Linked DNA regions of Homo sapiens. The protein of the gene in region 3 interacts with the protein of the main gene of each other region in a pairwise test. Each region holds a gene or a part of one and is shown on either strand. Other genes may lie near its edges.

What was found.
Region 1: the proteins of PRDM14 (region 3) and ABI2 interact in binary tests that used the Homo sapiens proteins (3 or more experiments, as listed by UniProt).
Region 2: the proteins of PRDM14 (region 3) and DMRT3 interact in binary tests that used the Homo sapiens proteins (3 or more experiments, as listed by UniProt).
Region 4: the proteins of PRDM14 (region 3) and BEX2 interact in binary tests that used the Homo sapiens proteins (3 or more experiments, as listed by UniProt).

The regions. Positions count from the first base shown.
Region 1 is NC_000002.12:203,394,391-203,401,424, forward strand, and holds part of ABI2 (abl interactor 2), read left to right. Parts: intron 1-309; coding exon 310-456; intron 457-1,265; coding exon 1,266-1,390; intron 1,391-2,394; coding exon 2,395-2,577; intron 2,578-7,034. UniProt on the Homo sapiens protein: Regulator of actin cytoskeleton dynamics underlying cell motility and adhesion. Functions as a component of the WAVE complex, which activates actin nucleating machinery Arp2/3 to drive lamellipodia formation.
Region 2 is NC_000009.12:986,637-992,248, reverse strand, and holds the end of DMRT3 (doublesex- and mab-3-related transcription factor 3), read right to left. Parts: intron 2,209-5,612; coding exon 1,244-2,208; 3' UTR 517-1,243; downstream 1-516. UniProt on the Homo sapiens protein: Probable transcription factor that plays a role in configuring the spinal circuits controlling stride in vertebrates.
Region 3 is NC_000008.11:70,054,240-70,061,273, reverse strand, and holds part of PRDM14 (PR domain zinc finger protein 14), read left to right. Parts: intron 1-2,431; coding exon 2,432-2,634; intron 2,635-5,872; coding exon 5,873-5,974; intron 5,975-7,034. UniProt on the Homo sapiens protein: Transcription factor that has both positive and negative roles on transcription. Required for the maintenance of embryonic stem cell identity and the reacquisition of pluripotency in somatic cells.
Region 4 is NC_000023.11:103,308,812-103,314,954, forward strand, and holds BEX2 (protein BEX2), read right to left. Parts: upstream 2,180-6,143; 5' UTR 2,049-2,179; exon of another isoform or gene 1,787-2,048; coding exon of another isoform or gene 1,772-1,786; intron 1,623-1,771; coding exon of another isoform or gene 1,547-1,622; intron 1,171-1,546; coding exon of another isoform or gene 1,166-1,170; coding exon 779-1,165; 3' UTR 535-778; downstream 1-534. UniProt on the Homo sapiens protein: Regulator of mitochondrial apoptosis and G1 cell cycle in breast cancer.

The DNA.
Region 1 (7,034 bases), on a different chromosome or scaffold from region 3:
CTAAGAAGAGGTAGGGTCTGGGAAACATTGGCTTAAATGGTAGAGAACCTTTGTGCTCTTTGAGAATAAATGAACAAAATTGCATTAGCACAGGGAAATGAGGTTGGAGACTGAAAAATAACAATATTCACCAAAACCCTAATGGTGGAGAAGTGATACATTAGTAAAGACTGAAATTGGTAGCTGGGTTATGTTAAAACACATTTCCTATCTCTGATTACAAATTGTATCTCAACTGCTGGCAACTCTTTGAATTTATTGTGCCGAAACTTGCTTAATCATACAATACATACGCTCTTCTTTTTGTAGGCGGCACTCCCCCTATCGCACACTGGAGCCAGTGCGTCCTCCAGTGGTACCAAATGATTACGTACCTAGCCCAACCCGTAATATGGCTCCCTCGCAGCAGAGCCCTGTGAGGACAGCTTCTGTGAATCAAAGAAATCGAACTTACAGGTATTTTCTCTACCTCAGTGCAAAATGTGATGGTCATAGTACCATAATCTGTTCAGATTACTTCAGGTAAATCTCTCATTTTCCAAGCACTAAGTTCTTTTCCTCACTCTATTCTCCCAAACCTCATCTGATTTCACCTCTCTCTCCTCATGTTCTGATTCAACTTTGAGCAGTCAGGAAGTTGATAAAGAACAGACATCTCAAAGTGCAGACTTCTCTCCAAGTTTTAAGAGTTCAGTTGATCTGGAAAAAAAATTATGGACCAAATGTGGGAAATGTCAGGTTGTTTTTTGGTGGAACTTTACAGATGAAAAACTATACATAATAAAACATTAATATGGGATAGTACATCAGAGTATGATTATTAATTAAAATTACTCAAATCTGTTTAGGAAAATGTTTTTGTTTTATTATAAAAGAAGTTTCTTCAGATAGGCATTAAACTGGAATATAAAAAGGCAATATTTATTGTTTTAATGTGTTAAACCTCAACATTTATCACTTGTATTTATGGATAATTTTTTCAAAATGTGGTCAAAACAAGCTTATTGAACTCAGTTTTCCCCTCAACTTTATTAATAAGTAAATATATATATATATATACACACACACACACACACACACACACACACACACACATTTTTTTTTAACCTGTCACTGACTTGGAGCTCAAGGAAATTTTATTTTGAAGTGGTACGCTTTTGAATTACCTTTATTGTAGCTACATTCATCTCAGAAAATGTCGGGAAGTGCTGATGATCTCTTACTGTTTATAAATACTCATGTTTTGGTGGCTCTTATTTCTTTAGCAGCAGTGGGAGTAGTGGAGGGAGCCACCCAAGTAGTCGGAGCAGCAGTCGAGAGAACAGTGGAAGTGGTAGTGTGGGGGTTCCTATTGCTGTTCCTACTCCATCTCCTCCCAGTGTCTTTCCAGGTAAAACATTCATGGTGCCTCGTCTTCACTTTTCCTTTCTGAATTTGATTCAATTTGTGATTTAATTATGGTGGGCTTTCTTCGTAATCAGGATTTTTTTTCTTTAGGAATCATAAATATTGGGAAGTCTATATATTTGTTATTTGTAAGCAAGTGATTTGTAAGTGTTTGCTCACTTTGCACTTCTCTTTATGCCTTTGGTGATGTGGCTCAGTTGCTGCTTTGAGGTTTCAGATCACACTTTGTTATGAGTACAAGTTTAATTCCAGCTAGTGTTATGACAGTGCAGTCTTTGGACACAGTGGGAACTCAGTGTGAGAACCATATTAGTAACAAAGGATTGGGCAGATATAAAAAGTAGTTTTGACAGTTAAATTTAGTGGCTGTATTGGAATTTAGTAGTCTCTGAAAATACTACCCTCTTTTCTCTGAAACAGAAAAATCTGCTTATTTGATTCGAGGAGATACACACTTAAAACTTAGTTTTGAAAACGTGACACAAAATACATTAATAGAATGTTACATACTTAATTTACTTATAGTAACAAGTAGATAATGCCTTTTAAAAATCATAAAGATTTGTGTTTTAAAAAAAATTTTTAATCTGATAATATGGAATATGTCTATTTTCTGATTTGTGTAATTCAAAATGGAAAACTGTTGTTTTTTAGTGTATTATGTTAGTTTTGTATACTATATACAGAATGTTATGCTAAAAATAACAATACGAAGGGAACACTTTTCTTCTGGAGTAGTGCTTTCAATTGAAAAGGAATGTTTGTTTTTAATGAATTGAAAAAATCTGCACATTACCCTGAGCATCTTGAATTATTTGCTGCTTATATAGTAATCCTTTAGCATAAGTTTTATTCTTTTTTTCAACTCTGTTCTTTTGGTTAGTGTTAAGCACTGAATATCTAACATTAAATACTCTAATACCTTTTCTAATCCTGCCTCATGTGATTGCCTCATTAATGCTGCCTCTTACTCCTCTTTCCCCTCAGCCCCTGCTGGCTCTGCTGGCACTCCTCCCCTTCCTGCTACTTCTGCATCTGCCCCTGCTCCTCTTGTTCCTGCTACTGTCCCTTCCTCCACTGCCCCAGACGCTGCTGCTGGGGGTGCCCAGACCCTTGCTGATGGCTTCACTTCTCCAACTCCCCCTGTTGTTTCTTCCACTCCCCCTACAGGTAAGTATTTGCTTATTCATTGGCAGGCAGATGCAGTCATCTGGCTATTCTCTTACTTGCACCTCTGATTTTTGTTTGTTTTTGGTTTTGTTGTACTTCGTATTAAAAAAAAATAAGAATAATGTACTAACCAGAAAGTATGTGACCAAAGATTAGCATTTCCTGAGAAAATTGAGGTAAAGTTTCTCATACATTTTTCCAATAGGGTAGCATAAATTTGTGTTTTTTTATTGCTTGAATTTCATTTATTAGAGATTTTTAAGTTTAATATGGAGCTACCTTCTATACAGTTTTTGGAAATTATCATTAGAAATATTTTCATTATAGGTTAAGTGATTAACAAAAGTCTATTACAATAATTCTAAGGTATATTTTATAGGAAATATTTGATACAACAAATGGAAAGCCTCTGTAAGTCTATTTTTAACAGAATCTGTTGCTTATTATAGCAGCATTGGAAACTCATAGACAATGGACTTTTAAAGAATTTCAGGTTTATTTAAGTTGGCTGGTGTTTTAAAATTGCAATCTAAAATCTGTTTTGATTGGGGAGGAGATAGACTCAATTGCTACGAAATATATTTGTAGAGTTAATGATGCTGGCTAGTAACAGGTTCTTGTCTGCTATAAAATGTATGTGTTTGGACATATATCACTGTATTAGTCTGTTCTCACATTGCTATAAATACCTGAGACTGGGTAATTTATGCAGAAAAGAGGTTTAATTGGCTAACGGTTCTTCAGGCTGTACAGGAAGCATGATAGTGGCATCTGCTTGGCTTCTGGGGAGGCCTCAGGAAACTTACACTCATGGCCTAAGGCAGAGGGGAAGCACACTGGTCACGTGGCCAGAGTAGGAGCAAGAGGACAAGGCGGGAGGTGCTACACACTTTTAAACAACCAGATCTCATTATTGCAAGAACAGCTCCAAGGGGGATGGTGTTAAACCATGAGAAACCGCCCTTGTGATCCAGTCACCTCCCCCTAGGCCCCACCTCCAACATTGGGGATTACAATTCAACATGAGATTTGGGCAGGGACACAGATTCAAAGCATATCAATCACCGTAGTGTTCCACTTGCCAGTGAAGAACTTCATGGCATTTATATTCAGCTTTGCTGTTATACATGTTAAACATATATAAGATCTTTACATGTTTTAAAAGACACTTTTAGCCAAAATGGATTTTGGGTGATGTCTTGTGGGATTCCTTCTATATGACTTTTAAAGAAAAGCTTTCTGCAGTAGATAAATGTAAACATGGGGTGTTTTTTGATCCAGATACAACTGTTAGGCCAAACTAACTAGTTAAATATAGGAATCTCGTTATGCTCCTGCTTTGATAAAGAATGCATCAGAAAGGACAAATCACCCCCAACTGAGAGTCTATGTTTTAGTAATTAAATATTAATTGAATAACAGGTGCCTGGCTCAGTGTTCACTAAATAAACATTTGTTATGTGAGGGGATAATTAACTGTGGTTTTTAAAACAAAAAGCAAGGTAAATGTCTTATTAATAATTTATATCAGGATAGTCTGTTTTATACAGTACCTGAGTTACCAAGCAATTGTTTTTCTTTTTACCAAGGTATAACTTATGTACAGTAAAATTCACCCTTTATACCATATATGTTTGTGAGTTTTGGCAAAGGTGTACTGACATGTAATTGCCACCACAATCAAGTTACAGAACAGTCCTATCATCGCAAAAATTTCCTCCATGCCCCCTTTATAGTCAGTCCTTCCCTTCCACTCCCAGCTCCTGGTAAGCCCTTGATGTGTTTTTTTTCTCTAAAGTTGTGCCTTTTTAAGTATAACATAAATGAAAGCATATAGTATGTAGCTTTTTTGATCTGTTTTTTTTGGCCAGATGCATTTGAGAATTACCCATGTTGTTGCATGTTTAAGTATTTCATTACATTTTATTGCTTAGTAGTGTTGTATTGTATGGGGATGTACCACAATTTGTTTATCCCTTTCTCAGAGGACATTTAGATTTTTCTAGTTTTGAGTGCTTATGAATAAAGTTGCTATAAACATGTACATACAGGGTTTTTTTTGTGCACATGGGTTTTTATATCAGGTAAATACCTAGGGAATAGAATTGCTGGGTTATATTGTAAGTAAATTTTTAACGTCATAAGAAACTGCCAAGTTGTTTTCCAAAATGGCTGTATAATTTTACACTCCCAGCAGCAATGTGTGAGTTTCCAGTTGCATCCTTGTCAGCCCTTGGTGTTGCCTTTTTTAGCTTTAGCCATTCCAATACATGTGTAATGGTTTCTCATTACATGTGTGGTTTGGATTTGCATTTTCTTAATGACTAATGATATTGAACATTTTTTTCATGTGCTTATTTGCCATGTGTATATCCTCTTTGGTGAAGTATCTGTTCAAATGTTTTGTTCCTTCTCACCTTTTTAATAGGGTTTTTTTCCTTATCATTGAGTTCTTTTATATTCTAAATATATGTCCTTTATAGATTATGAGTTACAAATATTTTCTTCCATTTTGTGATTCGTTTGCTTATTTTCTATTTTTTTGGCGGGGGGAGGAGGGGCGGGCGGACAGAGTTTCACTCTTGGTGTCCAGGCTGGAGTGCAATGGCAGGATCTCAGCTCACTGCAATCTCCGCCTCGCGGGTTCAAGCGATTCTCCTGCCCAGCCTCCCAAATAGCTGGGATTACAGGCACCCACCACCATGCCCAGCTAATTTTTGTATTTTTAGTAGAGACGGGGTTTCACCACGTTGGCCAGGTTGGTCTTGAACTCCTGACCTCAGGTGATCCGCCCGCCTCAGCCTCCCAAAGTGCTGGGATTACAGGCGTGAGCCACTGGGTCCAGCCTGTTCATTTATTTTTTTGATGTTGTATTTCAAATAGCAGAAATTCTTCATTTTTATTAAGTGTTATTTTTCAAAATTTTTTTAAATGAATCGTGCTTTGATGGCATATCTAAGAACTCTTTACCTGAAGTCATAAAGATTTTGTTCTGTGTTTTCTTCTAGAAGTTTTTAGTTTCAGGTTTTATCGCTAGGTTTATGATAATTAGGTATATATATTTTTAAAACCCCAAATGGTAAATCGACTCATTAATAGTGTGAATAGTGTCTTTTTTTTTTTTTTTTTTTTTTTTTTTTGAGACAGAGTCTCACTCTGTCACCCAGGCTGGAATACAGTGGCAATCTCGGCCCACTGCAATCTCCGCTGCCTGGATTCAAGTGATTCTCCTGCCGTAGCCTCCTGAGGAGCTGGGATTACAAGTGTGAGCCACCACACCCAGCTAATTTTTTGTATTTTTAATGGAGACAAAGTTTCACCGTGTTGGTCAGGCTGGTCTTGAACTCCTGATCTGAAATGATCCACCCGCCTCCACCTCCCATAGTACTGTGATTAAAGGCCTGAGCCACCATGCCCAGCCCATGTGAGGTTTTAGACTAGATCTAACTATATAAAATTCATAATGATGTTAATCCAGATGTTTTTAACTTGATCGTAGGTTTGTATTAGTTTGCTATAGATTAATTACTGAAATGCTAATTGTATTCAGTGGTTCAAATAACTAAATATGCCTTTTAAATCATAGTTTATATGTTTTCATTTTTATCATGGTTACAGAGGCTTCTCAGTTGATAGTGGATTATGTTTAAGCTTGAGTGCTTAAGTTTTTGATACACATGTAAGATGTTTAAATGTTATAACAAGCCTTGAGTGCTCTTATAATCCTTATATGACTCCATATGAATCTAAGCTTGGTAAACTTTCAGCTCCTGTAGAACAATTTTAGTCATATAAAACCATTTTATAATCATAGACAAGATGAAAAATTGTCAAAGTGTTGTTTTCCTCTAATACTTTTAATTAAAATTACCAAGAAGATAGTCTCATATTAAGGTAGAATAAAGATGGTAAGACTCAGCTGAGAAATATGAAGCCTGGAAGAGGATATGACTGCAGTGTTTGATCATGAAGATTTCAACAAATCAAGCATTCATCAAATTCCATATTACATAAGTCTTATCTCACTGTGTTTCAAGTAGTTTATTTTAGAATTTAAAAAATTTCAGGATAACCTTAGGCACAAATGGATAGATGAGTGTGCCAGGTATCATCTGTTCCTCCAGTCCCCCCTCCTCTACTCTCCCCTCTTCTCCAGTAGGCTGACCTCCATGAAATGTTTCAGTGGATTCTTTTGCCCTCTGGCTTCCTGTTGGGTTTAGCAAAAGTGTTTTTTTTTTCCTTTTCACTTATCTCCTCCTTTTCTCCCTTTCTCTTTCTCCTTTCCTTTCCCCTCTGCTATCCTCTTGCCCTCCTCCACCTTCATCTCCTCCTCCTCTACCTTCCTGTCCCCTTTCCGCTTTCTTCTCCACCTGCTTATTTCTCCGCCTCCTCTTCTCTCTTGCCCTCCCCTTCTCCCTTGTCTGCTATTGTGCTCTCTCATGGGTGCTGTGGTGCTC
Region 2 (5,612 bases), on a different chromosome or scaffold from region 3:
GCATGGTCTCCAAGTAAGAATGAAGGAATGCACGTCTATATTCTGAATGCAAGGCTACTGAATTTCATTAATAGAAGCAGTAGTTTTCATGGACTGCATACTTCCTATGTCAGGTACTGGGCTAAGCACTTTCCTTGCTTCCCACACTCAACTATACATTGTTGGGAGTTTTCCATTTTTACTTTGTTTTCAATGGGATTCTCCACTAAAATATCTGCTTATCTAGGACTCACGGGTAGGTAACTTGGACAATACATGGAAAGCACATTCTCTTACACATAGTAGGCACTCAGTAAGTATCTGTTGAATAAGTGAATGGATGGAGAGAATTAACTCCATTTTGAACAAATTATCTTTCTGAATGCAACCCTAAAACTTTGCCATTCATATTTCTCAGGAATGTCTCATTTAACTGATAATTTGATTCCTGGCCCATGCGTTAGTAAAAGTCATTTTTACATCAAGTTTCTATTTTTAGAGATCCTCTTTCCACAAGTAGAAATGACATAAACCACGCTCGTCTCCTTAGTTTATTTTTTTCTAGAGTCCTTAACATGCTACATTAACCTGACAAAGCTTAATCTTGTGTTCGTTTCACAATACATTTCATGCAGTTCACAGCTGTGATTGGTTTTACATTGACATTACACATGTTTCGATTCAGCCATGTGAAAAGAGTAATTCTTAATGGGGTTTGTCTCTGAAAACTGTCCAAGCTTAAATAAGCATATGAGCAGTTCACTCTATTCTTAAGTGCATCTCTCTTTAAAATGCAAGGATTTTTAGTGTAAGAATATAATGTCCCTGTTTATAGTCCATTTGCAACAGAACCACTTCCTTTAGGTTTCACATATCCTGAGGAATCCACTTTTACAAAATTGCATTCAAGTATATTATTTCATTTAACATTCCAGGTTGGGTTTAGGTGCAAGGCTGACCTTCAGCTTTACATCCCCAAATAAATCTTCCACGGACCCAGCCTTCCCAAGACTATTCTTAACATTAGACTCTCTTTTACAATAAACATTCAGCACTAAAGCCACAGAACAGAGCTATTTGGCATTTTCCAGTGAAGTGCAAGAAGTTAAATAAGTTATGTTTTTATTGCTAATGTATAGAATCAAGCACAGTCACTTTGTCAAACAGAAGGAAAGGGCATACACAAGATGTGGCCTCTCCTCAGATGCCTCAGGGTCAAAACGCACAGAAAATGTCACCTGGCCACCACCCATCCAGCACCACTTTAAGATGATGTGTTGAGTGTTCTAGAGTCTGAGGAGTCAGACCTCTCGTCATAGTCGTCCTCGGTGTAAATGGACTGCTTTGACACAAATGGACACCCATCATCAGGGATGGAAATCCGAGGGTCTTCCGTGGCGCGGGCAGGAAGGACGGGCGAGCTTCTGAAGACGCTGGTAGAGTTACTGGGGAAAGGACTGACATACTGGGACCTCAGCTGATACTGCTGCTGCAGCGTCATGGTGTTCCACAGGGTGACATCATTGGGCAAAAAGGGGCTCGACTGGCTTCTCGCCAAAGTATTCCTCAGCATCAGCGGGTACCGGGGTGGCTGGGGGAAAGGGGGCTGCAGAGGCCCAGCCAAGGGACTGGGGACAACGTTGCTAGAGTCGGCAGAAAACCTCAACGTGTCTGGGACTCGAAAGGCTGATCCCACAGACCATTTGGAAGACGAGATGGGGTAGGAGCTCAAGGTGTGTTCAAAGATGTGCCCATTGGAGGGCAACGCTAGACTCTCAGGTTCTGCGGAAGTTCGCTCTGCTCCCGTGACTGAGGATCGGCTGGACAGAAGGACTTCCACGGCGCTCACCAGGTCCCCGCCACAGCCCTTGAGGATGAGCTCAAGCACCGTTGGCTTCTGGTTGGGGAATATCTTTTTTAACACTTCAAGCGGCGGTCTGTTGGCTTTCAAGCTGAAGGGCAGAGAAACAGTCCCCGAGGGGCCCTCAATCAGGAGGTGATTCTGCTCCGCGTGACACTTGGGGCTGTCAGGGCGGCTCTCGGGGTTGCCTCCGTTTTTCTGGACAGCGTATCCCCCTTCCTCCACGGACACTATCTCAGGGCTCTCAGGGGTGAAGCAGCCCTTACTCTTTGCCACATCTGGGGAACTCCTCTGGTCAGTGTCTTTGTCACTGAAGACCTCTGTATTGTCTGCCGACTTGCCGTCTCCAAGTCGTTCTTCAGTCAAATCTGGAAAACAGAACAGCTGAGTTAATCTTTTCCTGGTGTGCATAAAGAGGAGCAGATGTGCTCAGAAGAGACCTGTACACGTGCTTTTTGGAAGAGCAAATGCATCTCAATGGGTCATAATATACTACAAGCCTTTTTAAAAAAATTCGAACTATATCACTGGCAAATGAAACAAAAACCCTGTAAATAAAGATCTAGAAATCAGAGTGGCTTCCTGGAATGCTTTGTGCAAGGAAGCTTGCCTTCAACATAGAATGGCTACATGAACCTGTAACATATGGCTTTCATAGCAGTAACAATCTCAATAGAGAGCCTCTTTGGGAGGAGGGGTGGGGGACTCCTGGAAGAGCAAAGCTCAGGGAGAAACAGGAAAATCAGCTCAGCTTGTCTTCCGGCTCCTCTTCTGCAAATAAGGTCCCCAGCTGTTATCTAGGGATAGTACCATCCAGATACCCACAGGGAATTTTAATATCTGAAATCTATTTTCCCATAGGCTGATTTTGTGTTAAATATGTCTTATGAACCAATCAGTAAGTTGCATCAGGTTACCATATACAATAGCTAGCTAATTCAATTGCTGAAGTGAAAGATACCTCTATCCATTGAAATCTTTCATAAGAAGCCACTTGAGGCATTGGCAAACTTGGTTGCCAATAACTTGTACTAGAAAGCAAACGAAACCAGCTATGAATTCCGGATGGCAGGATAAGTTGCTGGAGAGGAAAAAAGGAAGTGGCTAGAAAGGGTTTGTTAAATTGCACGGGGGCATTATTATCCATCAATGAAACAACGCATCACACTCCACCGCCACGGGTGGCACGAGGCAGATACCTGTGCATGAACTGTTTTGCTGGTACAGTTCATGGAAAGGACTTGAAGATACCTTTTTTTAAAGCCAGTGAAATTTGAAGATACCTTTTTATATTATATGAAAAGAAGAAGGAGGGAAAAAAAGGCTTCCCAAATAAAGCAGAGACTTGCGATAAAGTAAACCAGTTGCAAATTTAACATCTTGACCTAAGAACATTTTTACTTAACAGCTGGTAATATTGCAGGGCTAAGCACACAGAAAAGAGTAAGTCAGAGTGGTTTGCTTTGCAGTAGTAAATTCCAACAGGACTTTATAATAAAGAAACATATTTTTTAGTAGCAAGCTATTTGCAAATAGAGTTTTGTCCTTTTTTGAAACACGCGCTGGCTGTGGCTACTCAAAGCCAGGGTAGCTGATCGAAAGATGAAAATTCCTAATGACCCAGTTGTTGAGTTGTAAACAATTGCTTTGCCTGTGTTTTCTGCTGCCCTGCCTGAATAGCTTCATTGTTGCCTTCTCTGTGGGCACACCTGATTATATACAGATAGCCAGCCGGTGAAATTTCATCAAAGCACCCTCTAGAAACAATCTTCTCCTACACTTGTCATTTTAAAAGCCTTAAGGGCCTACTTATGAACATTCTTCTAATACAGGTGTATCTTAAGTGTAACCAAAAAACAAAACTTTGTGAAATTTCATCAAAGCACCTTCTAGAAACCATCTTCTCCTACACTTGTTATTTATTTTAAAAGCCTTAAAGGCCTACTTAGAAACATTCTTCTAATACAGGATGTATCTCAGATGTAACCAAAAACCAAAACTTTGGCCTTTAACAAAGCAATAAATATGTGGCAAACATAAGTAAATACACTTTAAAACACTCTTCAATTACCTCAGTGCAAGTGTCAACATACATCTGATAGGAATTCATACTTATCCCAAATTTGCATTTTAATTAAACTGCTTCTTTTTTAATATAAAATATAAGGTTTCCAATGAGAGGTTCATTTGCGTCACATACATATGAAGCCATCTTCACTTTATATAATGACTCTATAGAAAGACTCTACTGTAGAATGACTCTATTTTTGTAAGAGAAATTTGACATATTCTCTCCTACAACTTCTTAGGATGGGGGACACAGCTTTTACCTCTTGAGTTAATGTGGTATTTGAACTCATGTCCTTGATTCAAAAGAGAAAAACAGCAACAAAAAGGCTTCTATAGATTTACTTTATAATCAGCTAGATCTATTTAAATGTTCCTGACTCATGACCCATACATACTTCTTGGCTGTTACTCTATTATTAAACATTTGAAAATTATTAAACACTTGAAAAGTGATAGCATATTAATATACTATCACTTTTAGAAATTGGAAAAACAAGTCAAATACTCTCCCCATGTAAATATGGACATAAAGTACTTCTTTAAAATACTATGTACTTCTAAACAGTTTCCTTATTTTTTAATTTTAGCGTAATTATCAGCACCAAGTATTTATATTTCTGCACGATACTGGGAGAAACAGAATAAAGGATGAAAAACACCAAGAAGTGTAAGACCCACACCTAGCTTATGGACCTTATCTTCTAGCTGGGGAAATAAGACACACATGCAGGAGAAGAAGCAAACAGGGCCTGGCAGCATTTGCTAAGCCTCAAATATGACACACATTGTATACCAATGTTCATGGCAGCAGCATTCACAATAGCCAAAAGGTGAAAGCAACCCAAATGTCCATCAGTGCATGAATGTATAAAACGTGGTGTACACACACACACACACACACACACACACACACACACACACACACAGTGGGATATTATTCAGCCTTAAAAAGGAATGGAATTCCAATACATGCTATAACATGGATGAACCTTGAGAACATTAGGCTAAGTGAAATAAGCCAGACACAAAAGGACAAATACTGTATGACTCTACTTATATTCGATACCAAGAATAGGGAAATTCAGAGAGAAAGTAGTGTGGTGGTTGTCAGGGGCTGGAGGAAAAGGGAATGGGGAGTTATTGTTTCATGGGTATGGAGTTTCCGTCTGGAATGATGAAAAGGTTCTGAAGATGGATGGTGGTGATGGTTGCACAACATTTTGAATAAATGCCACTGAATTGTGCCCCTAAAAATGGTTAAAATTGTAAACTTTATGTTATATATACTTTACCACAATAAAAAAAGAAAAATATATGCCACACAGTGTCATAGTAATATAGAGAATGAAGAGATTTTTTTAAGCAAGAGAAACAACTAGTCCTTCTTGGGAATAAAGCGTACATAGGCACAGCTGGAAAGCTCAAAGCTCAACTTTTTTTTTTTTTTTGAGACAGAGTCTCACTCTGTCACCCAGGCTGGAGTGCAGTGGCATGGTCTCGGCTCACTGGAAACTCTGCCTCCTGGGTTCAAGTGATTCTCCCGCGTCAGCCTCCCGAATAGCTGGGACTACAGGTGTGTGCCACCACACCCAGCTAATTTTTGTATTTGTAGTAGAGACAGGGTTTCACTATGTTGGCCAGGCTCCTCTCGAACTCCTGACCTCATGATCCACCCGCCTCAGCCTCCCAAAGTGCTGGGATT
Region 3 (7,034 bases):
GTGCATTCATAGTCAAAGCCACTTTATCCTCTGGGATCCAGAGTGTCCTCTGCAGGGATGCTTTTGTAGGTGGCCCCTGTTCTCTCGCCTTCCCCCAACACATAGACACCCCTGGACGTGGGACCTGCTTTGCTAGAGTCTAGCTGCACCCTCTCTAACTTCTCTCCTCCTCCCTCCTCCATTGATAAAAACAGATTTACCTCTCAGTCTTGTCTGCCATTCAGTGATAGTATCACTCACATTGGTAAGACTCGGTAAGTGTTAGAATTAAATTAGTCATCACGGTAACCCTGTGCATTAGGGAAGTCAAGATGCTTTCAACCTTACTCTATACATAAAGATTCTAGCTCTGGAATCTGCCACAAGTTTTGAGTAATGAAGTATAAACTAAGAAGGTCCCTTGAATTGTGTAGAATAGAACAGCACTGTGAGCTGCGGGTGTCCTGGTGACTGCTCTGAGCTTGTAACTCAGGCTGATCTTAAAGGCACAAAGAGAAATAGGTCGGCCTCAGTGCCTCAGTGTATTAACCTTGTAACAAGTGCCAGGCAGGAATGTGTTCAAGAGCTGCAGGGTTGCACTGCCCTTAAATGGGGCTGGTGGAATGGTCTCTTCAACAGTACATATCAAGGAACAAAAGGGAAAGAGAGCCTATAGGTTAAGATATTTAAGAGACATAGCAACCATATACAACATGTAGACTTTGTTTGAAGCCTAATTTGAATGGACTGACCAGAAAGTAATTAAACAAATATATATGTGTGTATATAAATGTGCATATATAAGTACATATATGTTTCTATAAAAGAATAAGAGTTAATCGTTTAGGTATGACAATGTGACAATGACATTATGGTTATGTTTTTTTTTTTTTTTCGAGACAAAGTGTTGCTCTGTTGCCCAGGCTGGAGTGCAGTGGCTCAATCACTGCTCATTGCAGCCTCAACTAACTTCCCCAGGCTCAGGTGATCCTCCCATCTCGGCCTCTGGGACTAAAGGCGTGTGCTATCATGCCCAGATAATTTTTATTATTTTTTTGTAGAGATGGGGTCTTACTATGTTGCCCAGGCTGGTCTCAAACTCCTGGGCTCAAGCGATCTGTCCACTTCAGCTTCCCAGAGTGTTGGGATTATAGGCGTGAGCCACTGCACCTGGCACAATTATGCTTTTTTTTTTTTTTTTGAGATGGAGTTTTGCTGTTGTTGCCCAGGCTGGAGTGCAGTGGTGCAATCTTGGCTCACTGCAACCTGCGCCTCCCAGGTTCAAGTGATTCTCCTGCCTCAGCCTCCCAAGTAGCTGGGATTACAGGCAGGCACCACCACGCCTGGCTAATTTTGTATTTTTAGTACAGACGGGATTTCACCATGTTGGCCAGGCTGGTTTTGAACCCCTGACCTCAGGTGATCCACCTGCCTCAGCTTCCCAAAGTGCTGGGATTATAGGCGTGAGCCACTTTGCCTGGTCACAATTATGCTTTTTAAAAATATGTCATCTTCTAAAGATTACGGTTAGATGTTTTTGAGTCAAAGGATGAATTAGTATTAAAATAATCTACTATGGCGAGCGGTGATATAAATGAAAACAAAATTAGTTACGAGTTGGTCAAAGCTTGGTGTTTGGCACATGAGGGTTTATTACACTATTATTTTCACTTTGGTATGTTTACATTTTTCTGTAATAAAAAGGTTTTTAAAAATTCTCTTGGCGGCCGGGCATGGTGGCTCATGCCTGTAATCCCAGCACTTTGGGAGGCCGAGGCAGGTGGATCACAAGATCAAGAGATCAAGACTGTCCTGGCCAAGATGGTGAAACCCCACCTCTACTAAAAATACAAAAATTAGCTGGGCGTGGTGGTGTGTGCCTGTAGTCCCAGCTACTTGGGAGGCTGAGGCAGGAGAATCACTTGAACCCGGGAGGTGGAGGTTGCAGTGAGCCGAGATCACACCCCTGCACTCCAGCCTGGGTGACAGAGCAAGACTCCATCTCAAAAAAAAAAAAAGAAAAGAAAAGAAAATTCTCTTGACCAGGCACAGTGGCTCACGCATGTAATCCTAGCACTTTGGGAGGCCAAGAGGGGCTGATCACCTGAGGTCAGGAGTTCTAGACCAGCCTGGCCAACATGATGAAACCCTGTTTCTACTAAAAATACAAAAATTAGCCAGGCGTGGTAGTGGGCACCTGTAATCCCAGCTACTTGGGAGGCTGAGGCAGGAGAATCGCTTGAACCTGGGAGGCAGAGGTTGCAGTGAGCCAAGATCGTGCCACTGCACTACAGACTGGGCAATACAGCAAGATTCTGTCTCAAAAAAAGAAAATTCCTCTTGAAGTAGCCAAAGAATTCTTGGCTAAAAATAAATAAATAAATAAATATCCTCTTGAAGGAACTAGGGAGGGAAGTAACTGAAGAGACATTGTGTTTGCTGTGTTTGACAGAGTCTGCAGAAGGCTACAGATGTGAAAGATGTGGGAAGGTATTTACCTACAAATATTACAGAGATAAGCACCTCAAGTACACCCCCTGTGTGGACAAGGGCGATAGGAAATTTCCCTGTTCTCTCTGCAAACGATCCTTTGAGAAGCGGGACCGGCTTCGGATCCACATTCTTCATGTTCATGAGAAGCACCGGCCTCACAAGGTGAGTATTAGGAGGACACATGACCCACCATCACGTTCTCTCTCCCTTCCCAAGCTCCTGAACACGGGGAGTTGCCTTGTAGGTGCTAGCTGCAGGGCTGTGATGCCTGACGGACACCCTCTCTGAAGGAGGAGAGGATAGTATTACGGAACAGGCAGGCGTGAATAGGCACAGCGATGCACATGTGTTAGGATGCAGGTACCCACAGAGGGAGGAACATGGAGGAAGGAGTGTCCACGGCCACCTGGACACGTGGATTATGAAAGATGCACAGAGGTGGCCTTGAGCCAAGTATAGAAGGACAAATGGGGTGTCTGATTTATACTGGTGGCAGGGTTAGTTGGGCAGGAAAGAGTCGAGCTGTTCCAGACAGGAGAGAGCCTGGCATGTGCTCCTGGGGAACTGCGCCTTGTTCCAAATCTGTGCAGGTGTGTTGACAGGTATAGGTAAGAAGGAAGTGAAGGCACGGTCCTTCCAAGGAGCGGAAGGCCTCTACAGTGGGCCGAGGATTTTGTAAGACAGAAAATCAGTAATGACATTACGGAGCCATTCCAAATACCTGGATGCTCTGCTAGGCTTGCTGCAAAAAAGTACAATATTCCCTTGGGCTTAATTAAAAGGAGGACGAGGCTTGGGCACAGATGTATTCTTGCTTGACTGTTGGCCTTGTCGGAACTACCTCAGGCAGCTACGACCTTGAGCCCATTTTCCTGTTTTGAAAACTGAGAATAAAATCATCATAAAATTGTCCTAATTTCTCCCTTCCTTCCTAAGCTTCTGGAAAAGTCATGTTTAATCACTATATTATATACTCCTATAAAATTTGAATACATTTACAGTTATCATGCATTTGTGTAATTCTAAAAGGATTTAAAAATATCAGGACGGTGAAGGTATTTCTCGCTTATTAGACTGGCAAAAGTGAAAACTATCCAGTATTCTGATAGTGAAAAGTTTGAGACTGCATGTTCATCAACACAAAATTGATTATATAAATTATGGCTTACTGGCCAGGCGCAGTGGCTCACGCCTGTAATCTCAGCACCTTGGGAGGCTGAGGTGGGCAGATCACCTGAGGCCAGGAGTTCGAGACCAGCCTGGCCAACATGGCGAAACCCCATCTCTACTAAAAATATAAAAACATTAGCCGGGTGTGGTGGCAGGCACCTGTAGCCCCAGTTACTCTAGAGGTTGAGGCAGGAGAATTGCTTCAACCCCAGAGGCGGAGGTTGCAGTGAGCCGAGACTGTGTCATTGCACTGCAGCCTGGGTGGCAGGAGTGAGACTCCATCCCAAAAAAAAAAAAAAAATATTGTCTTATCAAGCAAAAACCAAATTACAGAAGATGTATAGAATGCTTGCTCTCTTTGAAATTGGAGGCCGGGAGTGGTGGCTCACGCCTAATCCCAGTACTTTGGGAGGCCGAGACAGGTGGATCACGAGGTCAGGAGATCAAGACCATCGTGGCTAACATGGTGAAACCCCATCTCTACTAAAAATACAAAAAATTAGCCAGGCGTGGTGGTGGGCACCTGTAGTCCCACCTACTCGGGAGGCTGAGGCAGGAGAATGGCGTGAACCTGGGAGGCGGAGCTTGCAGTGAGCCGAGATCGCGCCACCGCACTCCAGCCTGGGTGACAGAGCGAGACTCCGTCTCAAAAAAAAAAAAAAAGAAAAGAAACTGGAGGGCTGTCAACCAGGAGGTCAGTAGATGACAGGACTGATGAGGAAGCTGGTGATAGTGAGATGATGGCTTACCCTTCAACAGACGAGGTGCTCTTACAGTACAGTGGAGGAACAATCTTTTTTTTTTTTTTTTTTTTTGAGACAGTCTCACTCTGTTGCCCAGGCTAGAGTACAATGGCATGATCTCAGCTCACTGCAACCTCCACCTCCTACGCTCAAACAATCACCCAACCTCAGCCTCCCAAGTAGCTGAGCTGAGGCTATAAGTGCATGCCACCATGCTCAGCTAATTTTTTGTATTTTTTGTAGAGATGGGCATGTGGTGCGCACCTGTGGTCCCAGCCACTCGGGAGGCTGAGACACCAGAATTGCTTAAACCCAGGAGGCAGAGGTTGCGGTGGGCCGAGATCATGCTACTGCACTCCAGCCTGGGCAACAGAGCGAGGCTCTGCCTCAAAAATAAATAAAAATAAATAAATAAACAAATACAAAGATTTGCTCTCTCCTCTGCCCCATAAGCATGCCTGGAAAGAGGTTGTGAAAGCACAGAAACCTTTCTCAGAGAAAAATTGTTTTTTCTCTTTAGTTAGTGTAATTTCCTTAAAAGTGATGTCAAAACCAAAGGCCTTCTGCTTTATCCCTGGCAAACTCTCGGTGCTTGCACCTCTCTGGTAGTTTACTTCACCTGGTGTAGAATTCCTGAGACAGTTTCGAGAGGAGTTGCCAGGGTCAAGAAACAATATTAATTATTCACAGCGTGTGAACAAAATATTAACCTCTTCATGCAAGTTCAACACGTCTCAGATAATCTGCTACTGTGCATTACCATGTTGGCTTACATGTTCATCGTCACCCCTCCTTGATTTCTAGCTCCTGGTTTCTAGCAGTGTGGAGCACACAGTAGGTACTCTGTAAGTCGTAGATAATTGTTGAGTTAATTGCACAGTACTTGTAGTTTACTCATAGCTCTGTGAGGAAGGCAGAGCAGGTATTTTGCCCATGAGCAAGATCGGGAAACTAAGATTCCAGATTTAACCAATGTTCTGTAGTCACACAGCTACCTGTTGAGAGAGCAGGACTAATTCAGGCCTCTGCCATATACCACAAACCTGTTCAGTTCCCACATTCCACATCTGAAGCAAGAGTTCTCTCAGGTCGGGTGCCGTGGCTCAAGGCTATAATCCTAGCACTTTGGGAGGCCAAGGCAGGAGGATCTGTTGGAGTTCAAGACAAGGCTGGGCAACATAGTGAGACCTCATCTCTACAAAAAAAAATTTTTTAAGTTAGCTGGCTTAGTGGCACGCACCTGTAGTCCCAGTTACTCAGGAGGCTGAGGTGGGAGGATCGCTTGAGCCTGGGAGTTCCAGGCTGCAGTGAACCGTGATTGTGCCACTGCAGTCCAGTCTGGGTAACAAATTGAGATCCCGTCTCAAAAAAAAAAAAAAGAAAAAAATTGGAAAAGAGTTCTTCTCTAACCCCAGGTAAACGCAAGGTTGAAATGGACTTGTTAGAGGAAGGTGTGATTTCAACTATATTTTTCTTTTTCACCTTAGTGTTCTACATGTGGGAAATGTTTCTCTCAATCTTCCAGCCTAAACAAACACATGCGAGTCCACTCTGGAGACAGACCATACCAGTGTGTGTATTGTACTAAGGTAAATGGAACCTCTTACTAAGGGATGTGTCCTGAGCTCTGCTTGAGTGTCTATGGATAAGAACTTGAAACAAAGCCTGGCTTAATGAGTTCTTGGTAAATGTTAGTCAAATATCAGCCCAGTCCTCATTTCCACCCCTAAATATGCTCAAGTTTGCTAAAGATGGTCAAATATAACCAACCTCCTATTGCCAAGCTGGCATTTAGAGTACATGTAATAAAATACATTCCAAATTTATGGGGACCTGATGACCTATTACATAGTATTTAAAAGCACTAGCTGAGTGTGGTGGCTCACACCTATAATCAAATTTTCCATGCATCGGTGGCTTATGCCTGTAGTCCCAGCTACTTGGGAGGCTGAGGCTGGAGAATTGCTTGAGTCCAGGAAGTGGAGGTTGCAGTGAGCCAAGATTGCACCACTGCACACTCCAGCCTGGGTGACAGAGTGAGACACTGTCTCAAAAAAAAAAGGAGGGGGTGGGGAGGCGTGGTGGCTCAAGCCCGTAATCCCAGCACTTTGGGAGGCTGAGGTGGGCAGGTGCCTGGAGATAGGGAGTTCGAGACCATCCTGGCCAGCATGGTGAAACCCCATCTCTACTAAAAATACAAAAATTAGCTGGGCATGGTGGCACGTTCCTGTAATCCCAGCTACTTGGGAGGCTGAGGCAGGAGAATCACTTGAACCCAGAGGCAGAGGTTGCAGTGAGTCAAGATTGTGCCACTGCACTCCAGCCTGAGTGGCAAAGTGAAACTCCGTCTCCAAAAAAAAAAAAAAAAAAAAATCACTATTTCATAGTATTTAAGAACACAAACATGGCCAAGTTTCAAATCCTGCCTCTGGTGCTTACCTAGCTGTGCCACCCTGAGCAAGTCCATGAACTCCTGTTAGTTTCCACATTGATAAACTGGGGAGAATAGTCTTTACCAAGTTGTTGGATAACATCAGTAAAGTATATAAAACTCTTGTAACAGTGCCTGGCATAACATAAAAGTACTACTGGAATGTTAACTGCTATTATTACTACTTTAATCTGTGAAGGATGCTACTGATGTAATTT
Region 4 (6,143 bases), on a different chromosome or scaffold from region 3:
GTCCACTGGACTTGTGAATATAGGGAAGACCTCACCTTGGAAATTTCCTCTAATAACAGAAGGGAATATCTAAAGTGTTGGGTCATGCATGTCAGTAAGAACAAGAACTTGGGAGAAAGCTCACAACCTCATTACCTTATCTGGTCCATACAACAAGCCTGGGAGGTGATTGTCTTCATCTTACTGATAAATATTATTATCTTCAAAGAGATGTGTCTCTTACATTTCTAAAAAGAGAACCCAGAGGCAAGCTAAAATTGAGATTCTGTCACAAGTGTTTAGTAAGTGCTCACATCGCTTTTATAAGGTGGTCACATTGCTTTTTATCAGTAATACGTGTTCCATTTTGAAAAATAAGAAATTATGGGTAAGCAAGAATAAACTCCCTCTTAATTCTACCACAGAGATAAACACTATTTACTATATATATGTGTGTGTGTGTATATATATATATATATATATATATATATATATATATATATATGACTGTTTAGGTGCATGTTTAAGATTTAAAGTAAAAAAGAATGCAGAGAATGCTTTTTAAAACTGTTTTATTAACTTCACAATATATAATGAGCATCTTTCCATGCAATAGGTAAAACTCTCCTGCTGACAGAAACTTACAAACTGGGTCAAAAACAACATTCATTTAGAAGCTGGTAATAGGAGACCCACAAGAAATAGGTAACATCAAAACGTTTACGACAAAGGTACACCACAAATGTGTAAGTTTAGGAAGCAGGGGTCTCCCTATTAACTTCAGGGAAACCATCAGGATTCAGGGCATAAGGCAAAACTCATCGTGATGGTCATGGTGAGGGGGATCAGTGCTGACTGCCCGCAAACTATGACTCAACTGCTTTTCCCTCAGCTTTTCCATCAGCTGTCTCACCTCCTCCCCAATCCTTTCCATATTCTCCTCTCTCATCCTTGCCTGTGGCTCTCCAAGCCTATGCATTATGTCCCATCTATACTGCAGGATGGGCTGCCTAACGCGGAACCGCCTACGGTTTCCTCTAGGCACACAGTATTCACTAACATTCAAAGGTAGGGCCAAGGGCTCCCCTTTATTAGCAACTTGCTCCTTTTCATCTTTTTCATCATTTTCCTGGTTGACATTTTCCACGATGAGATTGTTTAACGCTCGTTCCTCTTTGGACTCCATTACTCCTAGGAGACAGAGAGAAAATGGACTCAATTCTTGGTGAACTGATCAGCACCGAGGACAGAGGCCCGACTACCCACCTTTCAAAATTCAGAGCCCTGGATTTCAAAGGCCTTTTTTAAATTTCATTTTTTTTCCACCAGAGAGGCCCCATGTACCCTCGGGGGGGCGAGGGGAGCCAGTCTGTGCCCTTCTCTCCCGCAAAGCCCACCATCTTCTCTGCAGATCCATCTCCAGGCCTCTGCAGGCACCAAAATGGAGGACGAAGAAGGGGTGGGGGTGGGGGATTGCTAAGTGTGGGGGTGAAGGCACGGATTGGGGTCTCAGACTGGGCTTTCCTCATGTTCTGACCCCCTCCCCACCACCGTCCCTCGCACTGACCTGGGCCTATCCTTGCAGTCTCCTCCTCCCGATTCTCGACGTGAGGTGCGTCGCCGCAACACTTGGCCCCGCAAACCTGCAGACGGCCGGGGTGGGAAGAGTGGGGGCTGCTGCAGCGGAACGCTAGAGAGGACCCGCCGCCACCCGGCCCCTTCCCCACGCCGGGCCCGGGCCCTCCTAGCCGCTCTCGCCCCCCGCCTCAGCCGCCCAGCCCCCCAAGCTGACCACCATTTTCTGCATCAAGAAGGGCGGAGCAGGGGTGTTGGAAAAGCTTGCGCTGGTGACGGAGGCAGGTGCTTCCGAAAGGTCGTAGCCTCAGGATCGCCGGCTCCCGCGGGGCCGGGCACCCCTCCGCTCACACAAGGCTCGCGGTCCCGCGGCGGGGCCCCGGGGCTGCATCGTGGACCGGCTGCGTCTCCGCGCTGCTGCCCGGGGATGGGGCATCCGCAGGCCGGGGCTGCTCCCCCACACCAACCCCAGGGACCCCCTCCGGGTCCCTTACCTGCTCCCCCTCCGCTTCCTACTTTCGGGGCCGTACCTGGCCCGCACGTCCTCAGGGACACCGGGAACAGGTACCACTGCCGAGAAGGGAGCGAGCGACGGCGGTTCTGACGCCACAACGAGGTAAGACTCAGTGTTGGCCGATCACGTGTGGCTGTTGTCATCGCCAGAGGCTCCGCCCCCGTCCCACGCCCCCTCCTGCAGCCCGGAGTCAGGTGGTGCTTTCGGGCCCGCCCCCATCCTCACCGGGAGTCCCTTTTAACATCCCCAGCCTGGGCTCTGCCACTCTTCCTTCTCTGTATATTCTTGAGACTTCCCCTGCTTGCCCAGGAAGGACGGAAGGTATCTTCTCAGGGAGCTGTTGGCCATTCCCACTTCTCTGGGGACTTGCCTCTCTCTGCCCTTGGCTCCCAGGATTCACCTCCTTCTGCCTGTCTACCTCCTTCTGTCCTCCTACCAATATTCTCCGTTTTCTCTCCACTAAAATGAGTGGAAGAGGTGTATCAGGAAAGGAGCACAAGAGAGTAGGCTTTTCTCATTCTTAATACCTTTTCTGTATTATTTCTTTTGTAAAACACAAAAAATTAATATACTTCTTTAAAAAGGAAAAAAAGTTATTTTTACTTGAAAGACGGGATTAAAGTTGGGCAAAATGTCCCAACCACCTGTCCTGTTAAGTCATTATATAAATATAGACTCTACACGCAGCTGCTTTTTTAGAACTTGGAAAAGGACAGGGCAGCTGATGGCTCCCCTTTTGAGGGGCCCCTGGACACATGAGGCCCTTCTATGAAATGAGCTAGTGAGTTGTAGTGCTACAGAACCTTGTTGGGTTTTCATAACTAAAAGGAAAAAAAAGGCCTTTTTCACAAATTTCTGGTTCAAACGATAAGTATGTCTTTATTTAAAGATCAAGTAATCATGTATTTAGGAAATCCAGAGACATCTACGGTAAACCTACTATAGGAGTAAGAATTGATTTTAAGAAGGTTGCAGCTACAAGATAAATATTACAAACGTACTCATAAATTTATTTGAAAATGCAAAGGACCTAGAATAGACAAATAATTTTTTTAAAATATCCTACAAATCTTGAGAGTTACATTATATTATTTCAAGACTTAAGGTGTAATAATAAAGTTAGTGTAGTAGTAAACATAGACCTGTAGATCAATAGAACAGAATAGACTCCAGAAATAGACCCATACGTATGTTGTTAATTAGTTTTTGACAAAGATATCAAAGTAATTCTATATGGAAAGTATAGTCTTTTAAACTAATGGTGCTGAAATAACAGAATTCTTAAAGGAAAAAAAGGAGCCTTGCCTTTTATTTATACTATACACAAATTAATTCAAAATGGATCCTAGGCCTAAATGTAAAAGCTCAAATTAGAAAACTTCTAGAATAAAACATACAGAAAAACTTTACAATCTTTGAGAAAACAATTCCTTAGGACACAAAAAGAACAGATCACAAAAGAAAAAAATAAGAAATTGGATTTATCCAAATTAAAAACTTCTACCATTTAAAACACATGGTTAAGAAAATGAAGTGAGAAGCTGGGAGTAAATATTCACAGTATTTGTATCTGACAATGGTTTTGAATTCAGAGCATATATAAAGAACTTCGAAAACATAAAATAAGAAGGCAAATAATGCAGTAAAAATGATCAAAAGATCTGAATAAACATTTCACAAAACTACACACACAAATTACCAATGAGCTCATGAAAAGATGTTCAACCTCATTAACTATCAGGGAAATGTAAAATAAAGCCAGGATGAAAAATCACTGCACACCCATTATAATTGCTGAACTTAAAGTCTGACAGTCCCAAGCACTTTTGAAAATACTAAACAGCAGAAACTCTCACTGATTGTTGGTGAGAAGTTCAACCACTCTGAGACTTGGTGGCAGTTTCTTGAAAAGTTAGACTTACCATATGTCCTAGAAATTCCACTTTTCGGAATTTTCCCAACAGAATTTAAAACATATTTTCTCAAAAATATTTGCATAGGAATGTTCATAGAAATTTCCTTTATGATAGTCCCAAAGTTGATAAAAACTAAATGTCCAACAAGTGAAGTGATAAACAAATTGTGATGTATTCATACATTTTAACGCTGCTAAGCAATAAAAAAGTGACAAGCTACTGATACAAACAATAACATGGATGAATCTCAAAAAAATGAAAAAAATTTGTATCTATAAAGATACCAGCCACAATTGAGTGTTTTCTGCATGATTGCATTTATATAAGTTCTAAAACAGGCAAAACTAATCTGTACTGATATAAGTTGAATCAAATCAGTTTTTGCCTGGCTTGAAAGTTGAGGTTTTTGTGATTGCAAAGAGGCATAATGGAACTCTCTCAGCTGAGGAAAACATTCTGTATCTTAATGGGGTAGTGACTCCATTGACAAATACATTTGTTGAAATCATTGAACTATACAGTTAAAAGGTGTGTATCTTATTGTAGGTAAAATACAGCCCAATAAGTTTTGCTAAAAATCAAATATATAGAAATAAATCTAATTAAATACTTTCAAGACCTCTACACTGAAAATTATAAAATAGTTTCAAGAACATTAAAGAATAACTAAGTATAGGGATTACCATGATCATAGATGAAAACACTCAATATTTTAAGGATGTCAATTATACCCAAATTCATCTGTAAATTCAGTGCAATCCATATGAAAATCTCAACAGGTCACTTTTTGTTGATAAGCAGACTCCAAATATGTGTATGAAAATACAAAGAGCCGGGCCTGGTGCGGTGGCTCACGCCTGTAATCCCAGCACTTTGGGAGAGTGAGGTGGGCGGATCACGAGGTCAGGAGATCCAGACCATCCTGGCTAACACGGTGAAACCTGGCTCTACTAAAAATACAAAAATTAGCTGGGCGCGATGGCAGGCTTCTATAATCCCAGTTATTTGGCAGGCTGAGGCAGGAGAATCGCTTGAACCCGGGCAGCAGAGGTTGCAGTGAGCGGAGATTGCGCCACTGCACTCCAGCCTGGGCGACAGAGTGAGACTCTGTTTAAAATAAAAAGAAAAAGAAAATACAAAGAGTCAAATATAGCTAAGACAGCCTTTTAGATGGAGAAAGCTCCAAAACGTCCACTATTAGATATCAAAATTTAATACAATTTTATGAGTATGATATTGTCTCAAAGATTAAAATGTGTCTGTGTTTGTGTGTGTGTGTCTATCTTATATGGACCTGTGAAACATACCTACCTATACAGTCACCTAATTTATGATAAAGATGACAGTTCAATGAAGTGGGGGAAAGCATTTTTCTTTTCAAAAGTGGTTTTGAAAAGATTAGTTGGATATCCATATGGGGAAAAGATGTATATTGATTCCACCTTACATAATACATTAAAAACAAAAACGAAAAAAAAAAAAAAAAAAAAAAAACCTCAGTGGATTGCAGACCCAAATGGGAAAGGTAAAAATGTAATCCTAATGTAAAAAAACTCAGGGGATCACCTTCATGACTCTGGAGTAAGCAGTTTTCTTAAACAGGACACAAAAAGCACTAAGCATGAAGGAAAAAGATTATGGATTGCACTTTATTCATATTAAAACAAACAAACAAACAAAAAACTTCTAGGCCTGGCGCAGTGTCTCATGCCTGTAATCCCAGCATTTTGGGAGGCCGAGGCGGGCAGATCACCTGAGGTCAAGAGTTCAACACCAGCCTGGCCAACATGGTGAAACCCTGTCTACAAAAATACAAAAAAATTAGACAGGCATGATGGCGGATGCCTGTAATCCCAGCTACCCGGAAGGCTGAGGCAGGATAATCGCTTGAACCCAGAAAGTGGAGGTTGCAATGAGCCGAGCTTGTGCCACTGAACCCCAGCCTGGGCGACAGAGCGAGACTCTGTCTCAAAAAAGAAAAAAAAATTGTTTATCATACAACACCATTAAAAGAATGAGAAAGCAACCTGCAAACTGGGAGAAGATATTTGCAACAAATATATCTAACAAATGACTCATGTCCATAATGTATTATATAAAGAACTCTTAAAAATAAGTAAGAAAAGGAAAGATAATACAATGGAAAAATGGGAAAATAT